Linked DNA regions of Homo sapiens: region 1 is linked to region 2. The links come from fine-mapping of genetic effects on gene expression. Tissue or cell type: whole blood. Region 2 holds a variant in brackets; the other region holds the start of a gene. All regions are shown on one strand. Distances are between the middles of the regions. Region 1 holds the start of TARS3 (threonyl-tRNA synthetase 3). Region 2 has its middle 25 kb from the start of TARS3.

Evidence for each region.
Region 1: TARS3 starts here. The variant in region 2 is fine-mapped to the expression of TARS3 in whole blood (TOPMed, PIP above 0.99).

The regions. Positions count from the first base shown.
Region 1 is chr15:101,721,281-101,726,660 of GRCh38, forward strand. It overlaps TARS3 (threonyl-tRNA synthetase 3), which reads right to left and starts at 3,193. Exons shown (of 19, transcript NM_152334.3): 1 at 2,811-3,193; 2 at 1,813-1,884; 3 at 1-42. The coding sequence starts at 3,107. RefSeq lists a silencer at 2,589-3,478.
Region 2 is chr15:101,746,851-101,752,230 of GRCh38, forward strand. No RefSeq gene overlaps it. Among named protein-coding and RNA genes, the nearest start is that of TARS3, 25 kb to the left of the region's middle. The variant G/A (reference allele first, on the strand shown) is at 2,503.

The DNA.
Region 1 (5,380 bases), 26 kb before region 2:
AAGCTTCAATCTTTCTTTTATGAAAATTGGTTGATGCTTCACCTGGAAATTATTAGAACATAATGAGATTAATATATACAGCCTACTGTTTTCCAGCTGCTCAGCTCTGAATCAGGCTCACCCCCTTACTGCCTTCTCAGTTCTACAGATGGTCCCAAGCTTACCATGGTTTGAATTACGATTTTGTTGTTGTTGTTGTTTTTTGGTTTGTTGTTGTTGTTGCTGTTGTTTTGAGATGGAGTCTTGCTTTGTCGCCCAGGCTGGAGTGCAGGGGCACGAAATCAGCTCACTGCAGCCTCTGTCTCCTAGGTTCAAGCGATTTTCCTGCCTCGGCCACCCGAGTAGCTGGGATTACAGGCACGCACCACCCTGCCAGACTAATTTTTGTATTTGTAGTAGAGATGGGGTTTCGCCATGTTGGCCAGGCTGGTCTCGAACTCCTGACCTCAAATGATTTACCTGCCTTGGCCTCCCAAAATGCTGGGATTACAGGCGTGAGTCACCGTATCCAGCCGCAATTTTTCAACTTTAGTGATGTGAAAGTCATATGCATTCAGTAGAAACTGTACTTTGAGTATCCATACAACCATTGTGTTTTTCACTCAGTACAGTATTCAATAAATTACATGAGATATTCAACACTTCATAATAAAATAGGCTTTATGTTAGAGGATTTTGCCCAACTGTAAGCTAATCTAAGTGTTCTGAGCACTTTTAATGTAGGCTAGGCTAAACTACGATGATCACTAGCTTACGTGTATTAAATACATTTTTAACTCACATTGGTTTTATTGGGACATAACCCAACTGTAAGACTAAGAGCATGTGTACTTCCCACCTCCAAAAGGCTCCTCTCTGCCTATCTAACTTCTCCTTAGCTCTAAAGGTCCACCTCAAAGCCTGCCTCCTCTACCTATTTTACCCGCTGGCATCTCCCTTTTTTTTTTTTTTTTCCTTTGAGACAGCCCCACGCCCAGCCCCCATGACACCTCCCTTTTCTACTGTTTACAGAACGTGTACAGAGTCACACATTACAGCACTTACTTGTATACCATCGTACTCTGTTCTCTAGTTGTTTGTCCTGAGTCTGCCTGAATTCCTCAACCAGACTAACTTCTTTGGGCCTAGGTATTCCTTCTTCACTCCTACCAAATGTTGATGCTAGATAAATACTTACTGATTGTTTTAATGCTTTATATACAAAAGCAAAGTAGCTAGTTTCTCGAATACAAAAAAAAAAAAAAGACCGGGGGCGGTGGCTCACGCCTGTAATCCCAGCACTTTGGGAAGCCAAGGTGGGCGGATCATGAGGTCAGGAGATCGAGATCCTCCTGGCTAACACGGTGAAACCCCATCTCTACTAAAAAAAAAAAAAAAAAAAAAAAAAAATTAGCCGGGCTTGGTGGCATGCACCTGTAGTCCCAGCTACTCAGGAGGCTGAGGCAGGAGAATCGCTTGAACCTGGGAGGTGGAGGCTGCAGTAACCGAGATCATGCCATTGCACTCTAGCCTGGGCAACAAGAGCAAACCTCCGCCTTCAAAAAACAAAAAAAAACCAACCAAACAAAAAAAACCAACTCTAGTACTCTAGTAGCACAACTTAAATAGATTAAATACACGTGTTTATTAAACATGGGCAGCTCATTTCTCAAGACATCTCATATTTAAGGCTTGAAAAGTTTTAAATACACTAATGTGACCCAAATAATAATTTAATCAGTAATTTTTATTGGAAATCCTAGGTAATTAACTATATACACATATTTAAAATTACAGGTAGTATTTTATATTGTTTCCACAGCAACAACTTACCTCGCTGTCAGCCTCGCTTTCCTTCATTTTCTTCTTTTTCATGTCCTTGTCTTGGCTTTGACTAGGAGGAGGCTGAAAGATAAATTATAAATGACTCACATCAATGGCAAGAAAAAGCAACACATTTTAAGAAGAGAGTCATGCCAGCAGGCTGCAAGTGCCCCGTGTTTAGAGGCTCATAGCTGGGCTCTCCTGACCACCAGCTACAGCTCTCAGTGGGCAAGTCATTCTCCAGGGTTCAGTCCTTCCTGTCACACTGTTGCTAAGCACATTTAATATATTGTGCTCTTGAAAACCTTTTGTCCTGAACTTTAAACAAATAATGTGGCTGGAAAATGTGTGGTTGCTGCCCGCCACATCAAATGCACTATTTCCTGAAGATGTTGCTAGTTCACCGCAGCTGTCCTTCCTAAAGGACTGCAGAACATCTCAGCCTGAGAAGCTTCAGGACTCAGAAAGTATGATGTTAAAAGAAGATAATTTATCCTTTCTACAAATCATAAAATACTGTATTAAATAAAAATGTTAAATATACAGCTATCCTCTCAAGATGAACCACCAAAACAAGAGCACAAAAAGCGAAAACTTCTCGTCCAAAAAAAACCCAACAACAAAAAAGAACCAGAGGGAATGAGAGTTTACATACGCAGCTGTTAGTCTTTCTGACCAAGGAAAGAATGAGTTTTAAACACTCCAGCATTTTTTCAAACAAATGAAAACACTATTTCTGCTACTGAAAAAGATGCGTGGCAGGCTCTTTAATGGACGAATTGAGAAATCAACAGCATTTGGTTAAGTCTGGCGACTGCTGGAAATCCGGCGGCTCCCCAGGCCACACGGGACCACCGAGCAGGGCAGGGCGGGCCAGCCGCAGGGCACTGGGAGGGCACTCCCCCGGGGCGCCCCCGCACCTGCCCCCGCAGTTGAAAACCTTTCGGTGCGCACCGTCTCGGCCCGCCCCGCCCGCGTCCTCTCCAGTGTCCCCACCGCCCGGTTACCTGTGCGCCGGCCTCCTGCGCCGCCTCTAGCTCCGCGCTCTCCAGCGTGGCCTGGCGGCTCCGCTCCTCGGCGAGGCACAGCCGCAGGCTGCACAGGCGGTGGCGCAGGTCGCAGTTCTCGGCCCGGAGCTGCGCCACCTCCCGCGTGAGGCACGGCCCCTCCGCCTGGCAGCTGTAGGGCGCGTTCAGCTGCTCGTCCCTCAGGCGCTCGACCTCCGACCACAGCCAGCGGATGTCCTCCTCCTGCCGCTCCAGGCGCGACGCCACGGCCTCCGCCGCCAGGGCCTCGGCCGCCATCGCGGCCTCCCTCAGGCACCGACGCCGAGCGGGGTGCCCGCGACTGCGGCGAGGGCGACGCGGACACTCAGCGCACGGCAGAAGACAGGGCTCCCGGGAGGGGCGGGGCGATGGGGCGGGGACGGAGCCATGGGGCCTCGTTGGAGCCGAGGCCTACACGTTGCAGGGGCGGGGCGCTGGGCGGGGAGGGGCGGGGCCTAGGCCAGATACCCTGCAGGGGCGGGGCGGGGCGGGGCGGGGCCTGAGGCCAGATACCCTGCAGGGGCGGGGCGGGGCGGGGCCTGAGGCCAGGCCCACCTTAGGGTCACGGGCAGTGGGGAAATGGGGTCTGAAGGGCCTCCCCTGCCTTTCGAGGCCTGTCTAGAGGCTATTGGCAGTAGTTTTTAGTCCGTTGAAACGAAAATCTTCCAAAACCTTGCAAAAAGGCCATCGTCTGCGTTCTCCAAAAAGGCTTCACCCTTTCTTCCTCTTGAATTCTGGCAGTCACCATTCTTTTGCCTTGCAAACAGGTTCTAAAAAGTGGCCATTCATTATAAATGGACTTTCTGGCCTTTCGTGCCAAACTTGCCCAAGTACTGAGGCCTCTGGGCCAGGGCATATAGAAAATCGCTGTGAAATCTAAATCCGACCAGCACGAAATTACTGGCTCCTTGAGTCTAGGGCAAATGCCACATATATCTTTGTATCCCTCTTAACCATGAGCGTGAAACTTCCTGGAGCAGGAACAGAAATTGATTTTTATCACTATTCTTAGGGCTTAGGATGTGACAAACACTGTTCTAAACTCTGTAACAGTAGTAACTCCTTTAATCTTCATAACAGGAGATACTGTTATATCCGCTTATAGCTGGAGAAATTGAAGCACAGTGAGACTGTGTTACTTGACTAAGGTCACACAGCCACTACATGACAAAGGGGGAATCAAACTCAGATAGTCTGATGCCAGTTTCTACACACTTAACACTAGTACTTTTCAACTTTGGCAGAATTTAATTGAGCATGTCATATAATGTGATACAGGTAATAATGCCCTTATAAGAGTCCTGAAGTGGAAGAGCTTAGCTTGGACTGGTGTGGTTTGAGAAAGGGAGAAAATTTTGAGAAAGGGGAAAAGGTTTATTTTGCTCTGGAAAATAAAGGTTGGGAGATGTTAGCAAGGAGGAAAAGCAGGTAAATTCCACTCCAGGAGCAGAATCAGTGCAGGAGAAGGAGCGGAGGGGGACAAGCTCATTGGATTAAGCTAAGTGGAATCCCAAACAGCACCCAGGAGGAGATTCCATGAAGTATGTTGCTAACCAATATCACTGTATCTTTTTTAGTCCTTCCTCAGGAAGCCTCTGGATACAGTTACATAGGACCCACTGACTCCTCATTATTCATCATTTCTCAATCCACTGCCATGGAGTTTCTGCTTCTGCCATTCTGTCATGACCAACACATCACTGAATGTCATGGACCCACTTAAGCCACCCCAGAATTTCCTCGGGACCCTCTGGAATTTGTCTCTCTTGGGTCTCCATTCCCAATACCTAGGCAACCACCAGTCTGCTTCCTGTCACTATAGGTTAGTTTGCATTTTCTTGATTTTTCTACACATGGAACCACACCGTATGTCCTCCTTTTGTTTAGCTACTTTCAGTCGGCACAATAATTTTGATATTTACCTATGTTTGTGTGTATCTATTGTTCTTTTTTTCTGAGTAGTATTCCATTGTATGGATATACCATAATTTGTTTATTCATTTGTTGATGGAAAATTTGGGTTATTTCCAGGTTTTAGCTAGGATCACACAATACCCAGTGAGCCCATTGGGTTTCCAAACTCACACTGTAGTTATTTCGTCAGTTCCAGAATGCAGAGTTTGAATAGATATACTCCAAACTGGCAGAATCCCTACAGTGTTTCCCTGACCCTCGGACATAAGGCTATTATTCTGGTAGGAAAGGCCAAGCAGAAACCACTAGAACTTTATCAACATACAAAAATAATAAATCAAAAGTAATACTGCATTCCTGAAGGAATTGCACAGATTACTGTTGCCTTCAAGAACTTGAAAGATGCAGGGGTGGAGATTCTCATCACACCCCATTTACCTTACCTTACCATCCCATTTACATTTAGCCTATGTAGAAGACAAATGGATGTTAGAGAATTATAGTAGATTAATATAAATTTAATTAGATGGTGATTCCAGTTGCAGCTGCTCTTCCAGATATGATTTCATTGTTGGAGTAAATCAGCATAACCCCTAGCACCTGATATGCACCTATTG
Region 2 (5,380 bases):
CACCTTTCTGCCCGACCCATCTAGTCCCTACATTCCTCACACTCGCCTACTGGAGGCTCAGGGCGGCACAACCACCAACTGTAGTGTGTGTGTTTCTCCCGAGTGTGTGTGTGTGTGTCTCCCAAGGGAACAGAGCACTGCTGAGTTCAGGTTGATTATTAGGTCGTGGACTGTCAGCAAAATGCAGTCACAAGAAGGCTGTGGGCTGTTTTGTGTTTTGCGGTGACATCATGTTGCTCATGTTTTATGTTTTTCAGAGTTCATTAGTTTCTATTTGTTCTCAGTTAATATCCACCTCAATAGATTGCATAAGTAGAATACCCCCAAACTGAAAGTCACCTACATAAAGTGTAGTGAAAAATATGTCACCCACTTAAACTATAGCTTAAACTATAGTTGAAGTTGTGTACACACTAGTTTTGTGTAGCCAACACTAGGTAATGGGTAAAGGCACAGGATCCTGGGGCTCTACTGCCTGGTTCAATTTCCAACTTTGCCATTTGCTGACTGTGAAATACTAGACAACTTTAAGCCTCAGTTTCTTTCTTTTTTTTAAACTTAATCCCAAATGTGATAGTAAGTCTCAGTTTCTTGATCTGAAAAACAGAAATTATTCAATGAGAGTCTGTGAAAACATTAAAGTTTTTAAAGCCACTGCCTGGCTCAGGAAAGTCCTCAGCTTTAGCCGTTATTAGCTATGATAATTATTGTGTTGGCTACACGTGCATTAATGAGGTAGGAAAATGCTCAAGGATAACAACCAAGTATCCAGATTATCTCATGAGACCGAGAGAGATGCATATGTGTGCATGCTCATGTTTCAGCTCAGAGCGCTTTGTCTAGAAGGCTCTTGAACTCAGAGGCCCAGGCACTATCAACTTGACTTTGCAGTGGAGGCATCACTTTTGTTGATCAATGAAATTGACATAATGCTCATTTTTTTTTTAGCACCGACCATGTGCCGAGAGCTAACTGTGTCAAGAAGAGCATGCTTCAGTTGGCTGGAGTGAGCAATTCAACTTGTGGAGGAGTGAGAAATGTTAGTGTTGAGACAAGAAACGTAAAACCCCAGGGTAAGGTAGGAATCAGTGAAAGGCAGAGGAACTGCCGTCCAGTAATGAGTTAGGCTTTGCTGGCTTCTGGCCCTACAGATGACTCTTTGGAGAGGAAAAAATTAAGCTAGGCCCGAGGGCACAGATCCTAAGGGAATGCTGGCAGCCTAGGCTGTCTATGGAAGAGAAGCAGAGGGTGGCACCTGGTTGAAAGAGGGGGTTGGGGGACAGAGCTTGAGGCTGTGTTTACAGATGGAGTCCTCTGATTCCTGTGACTGGGGAAGGAGATCGTGCTGGATCAGGGCACCTCAAATCAGAACTCTTCCCACCCACACCCCTTCTTTTCAGGGCGTCTTTCATTGCAAACAGTAGATAAACTAGTTGGAAAACTCAGCAGATTCTCACGGTGGTGCCTAGCAGGCCAGGCCTAGCTGCCGTTTAAGCTGTGACTGAGGGTGATGCCACTGGCCTGTAAACACACATTGGACAATCTTTACGTCCGTGGACACGCCATGCCCCACAGAGACAGCTGTGCATGGTTCTTTAGGTTTGGGGTGCTGTGCTGGCAGTTGCCTGATAAATGTGTAGGATTAAAATGGGATGCCCTGGAGCTTAGCTAACCTTTATCCCCCCTCCCCCCTCTAAAATGAAGGGGCTGCTAGTTTTGTTTGCTTTATGAAAGATGGATCTGTTATTGTTTTTAGAACCTTTGGAGAAAGATTTGTTGGGAGGAAGCGATCCTGAACCCCCAGAGATTTTCTCATTTACTGGTGCACCAGCTTTCGAGTCCTAGGTCTTCATCCTGGCTCAGCCACCCTCCAGCTGTGTGACCTTTGAGAAGTTGCTTGACTACACTGAGTCTCATTGTCACCTATGAGTGGAGGTTGCTACATTGCTACTGTGTGGAGCACCTACCCCCAGCCACTCTTACAGGGTGATGGTGACGATTAAATGCAATAATAAGGCTGAAGGAGGAGGATCGCTTGAAGCCAGGAGTTTGAGACTAGCCTGGGCAACAAAGCCAGACCACATTTCTATGAAAATGTTTTTTTAAAAAATTAGCTGGACTTGGTGGCTTGGGCCTACAGTCCAGCTACTCGAGAGGCTGAGGTGAGACCACTTGAGCCCAGGAGCTTGAGGCTGCAGTGAGCTGTGATTGCACCACTGCACTCCCGCCCAGGAAACAGAGAGAGACCCTATCTCAAATAAATGAATAAGTAAATAAATAAAATAATAAAATAATGCATGCAATTAGTACACTAGTACATGATCAGGCACATGATAACTGCTCGATAAATGGTAGCCTCAGTAAACTTTATAATGTTTTAAAGGAGAATGTCCTTTGGACTCAGCCTTTCAAATGACAGAGCATTTGAAAAGACTGATTTGTATGATGGCTATTTCCTACAGATACAAGACTGTACCTCCAGGGACTCAAGGCATTGGCTCA[G/A]TGGGGCACCTTGTTCTGTTTACTCTTGTTTTGGTCAGCACCGATTGCCCTAGGGCTAAGCAGGGCTGCCACCACAGACTCAGTTGCCAAGAGTATCCCCCTCCCCAAGCTAGCCATGGGAAAGCCACTCGCATTGTAAGACTACAGGAAATCAAAGGGAATAAAAAGCACAATTTAGTCACCTACTCTCCAGTTGATGGGCAATAGGTTTTTGCTATTTTGAACAGAGCTGTTAGGAACATTCCTTGTCCACATCCCCTGTTTTATATAGGCAAGAATTTCTCTTCCACGTAGAGTAGAATTACTGGGCTAGGAGGAGTGTGAATATTGAACCTTATGAGATGGAGCCAAACTGTTTTCCAAAGTGGTCATACCAGTGTATACTCCCAGCAGCAGTTCTTAAGAGATCTCAGGATGTCTATCTTCTGGTGATTTCACAAGCAGTCAAAAAGAATGAACGCCAGCAATAAACAACAATAAGAACTTTAGCAATATAATATTGTGAGAAAAACAAATTCCAGAAGGATGCATACAGAATACTTTATATAACATGGAAAAGAAAATGTATAGACCCAGCATGGTGGCTCATGCCTGTAATCCTGGCACTTTGGGAGGCCAAGGCAGGAGGATTGCTTGAGGCCAGGAGTTCAAGACCAGCCTGGGCAACATAGCAAAACCCTTTCTCTACAAAAACTAGAAAAATTAGCCAGGTGTGGTGGTGCAGGCATGTAGTCCTAGCTACTCATGAGGCTGAGACGGGAGGATCTCTTGAGTTTAGGTGTTCAAGGTTACAGTGAGCCCATGATTGCACCACTGCACTCCAGCCTGGGCAACAGAATGAGACCCTGTTTGCAAAAGAGAAAAACAAGTAAATAAGTAAAATTTAAAAACAAAATGTGGGCTGGGCACGGATTCTCATGCCTGTAACCCCAGCACTTTGCGGGGCCGAAGTGGGTACCTTATGAGGTCAGGAGTTCAATACCAGCCTGATCAACATGGTGAAACCATGTCTCTACTAAAAATAGAAAAATTACCCAGGGTGGTGGTACGCGCCTGTAATCCCAGCTACTCAGGAGGCTGAGGCAGGAGAATCACTTGAACCTGGGAGGCAGAGGTTGCAGTGAGCCAGGATTGTGCCATTGCACTCCAGCCTGGGTGACAAAGCAAGATTCCATCTCAAAAAAAAAAATTATTTTTTTAAAAAGATAACATTGACAAACAAAAGGAAACATGACAACTGATACCACAAAAACTCAAAGGATCACTAGTGGCTATTATCAGCAACTATATGCAAACAAATGGGAAAACCTACTAAAAATGGATAAATTTCCAGACACATCCAGACTACCAAGACTGAACCGGGATGAAATCCAAAGCCAGAACAGACCAACAACAAATAATGGGATCGAAGCAGTAATGAAAAGTCTCCCAGCAAAGAAAAGCCTGGGACCTGATGATTCACTGCTGAATTCTAGCAAACATTTAAAGAAGAACTAATACCAACCTTACCCAAACGATTCCAAAAATAGAGAAGGAGGGAATACTTCCAAACTCATTCTACAAGGCTAGTATTACCCTGATACCAAAACTAAAGATACATCCAAAAAAGAAAACTACAGGCCAGGATCACTGATGAATATTGATGCAAAAATCCTCAACAAAATATTAGCTAATTGAATTCAACAACACATTAAAGTTGGGGTGCAGTGTCCCAGGTTCACTCAACCCTTCCCGTTTTCTTGTCTGTGTGTGTCTACTTTGCTCTGTTCCCTGGTGGCAGCGGCGGTGGCAATGTTGGTGCATGGGCCTCCTAGGACAAGGGGAAAGTGAGTATGCCCTTTTCTTGCTTCCTGCCAGGCATCTGCAGCCTGGCGCAAGCTCTGGCCAGGTCTTCAAGCAAGGTACCTGGAGATGTTCTTTTCCAATTTCTGGATTGGTAACTTGAGGCAAATTCTGGGCACTAGAGTCAGGACTAAGATGAGACTTGAATCAGGGGAGTCTGGGGTCCTGAGAGGCAGAGGCCTGAAACCATCTAGAGCATGTGGGGACCTGGGTGTGTGTTCAGGCCAGTTGCCTTTCTCTGTGCTTCAATGTTCCAGGTACCCTTGGAGGGACTGAGATCCTAGGGATTGCTGGAGCCTGGCTGCATGGCCTGGCCACCCTGATGCGCTTGCATTCTCCGTGACAGGACAGCAAGGCTGAGGAGAATGGCTCCCACAGCTTCATGCACTCCATGGACCCACAGCTGGAGCGGCAAATGGAAACCACCCAGAACCTGGTGGACTCCTACATGGCCATTGTCAACAAGACCGTGTGGAACCTCATGGTTGGTGCGAAGCCCAAGACCATCATGCACATCATGATCTACAATGTGCATGCACCGCCTCATGGGGGTAGGCGGCTCCTGTGGCACTGGGGATGCAGGTGGCCATGTTGGCCTGGGGGAGATGCTGACCAGCCCTATGGGACCAGGTCCAGGGAGGGAGGCATGGTCCAGACCAGAGCTGTCTCATAGAAATATAACATGGGACTGAGGACAGTGGTCCATGCCTGTAATCCCAGCACTTTGGGAGGCCAAGGCGGGAGGATAGCTTGAGCCCAGGAGTTCGAGACCAGCCTGGGCAACATAGTGAGACCTGGCCTCTACACAAAAATTTTAAAAATAGCTGGGCTTGGTGGTGGCACGTGCCTATAGTCCTAGCTACTCGACAGGCTGACATTAGAGGATCACTTTGAGCCCAAGAGGTTGAGGATGCAGTGAGCGGTGATCTCGCCCTCTATACTCCAGCCTAGCGACAGAGTGAGATCCTATCTCCAAAAAAAATTTGAAAAACCTGAGTAGACAGGTGTCCTGGTAGCATGATAGGTCCAGGGTCCC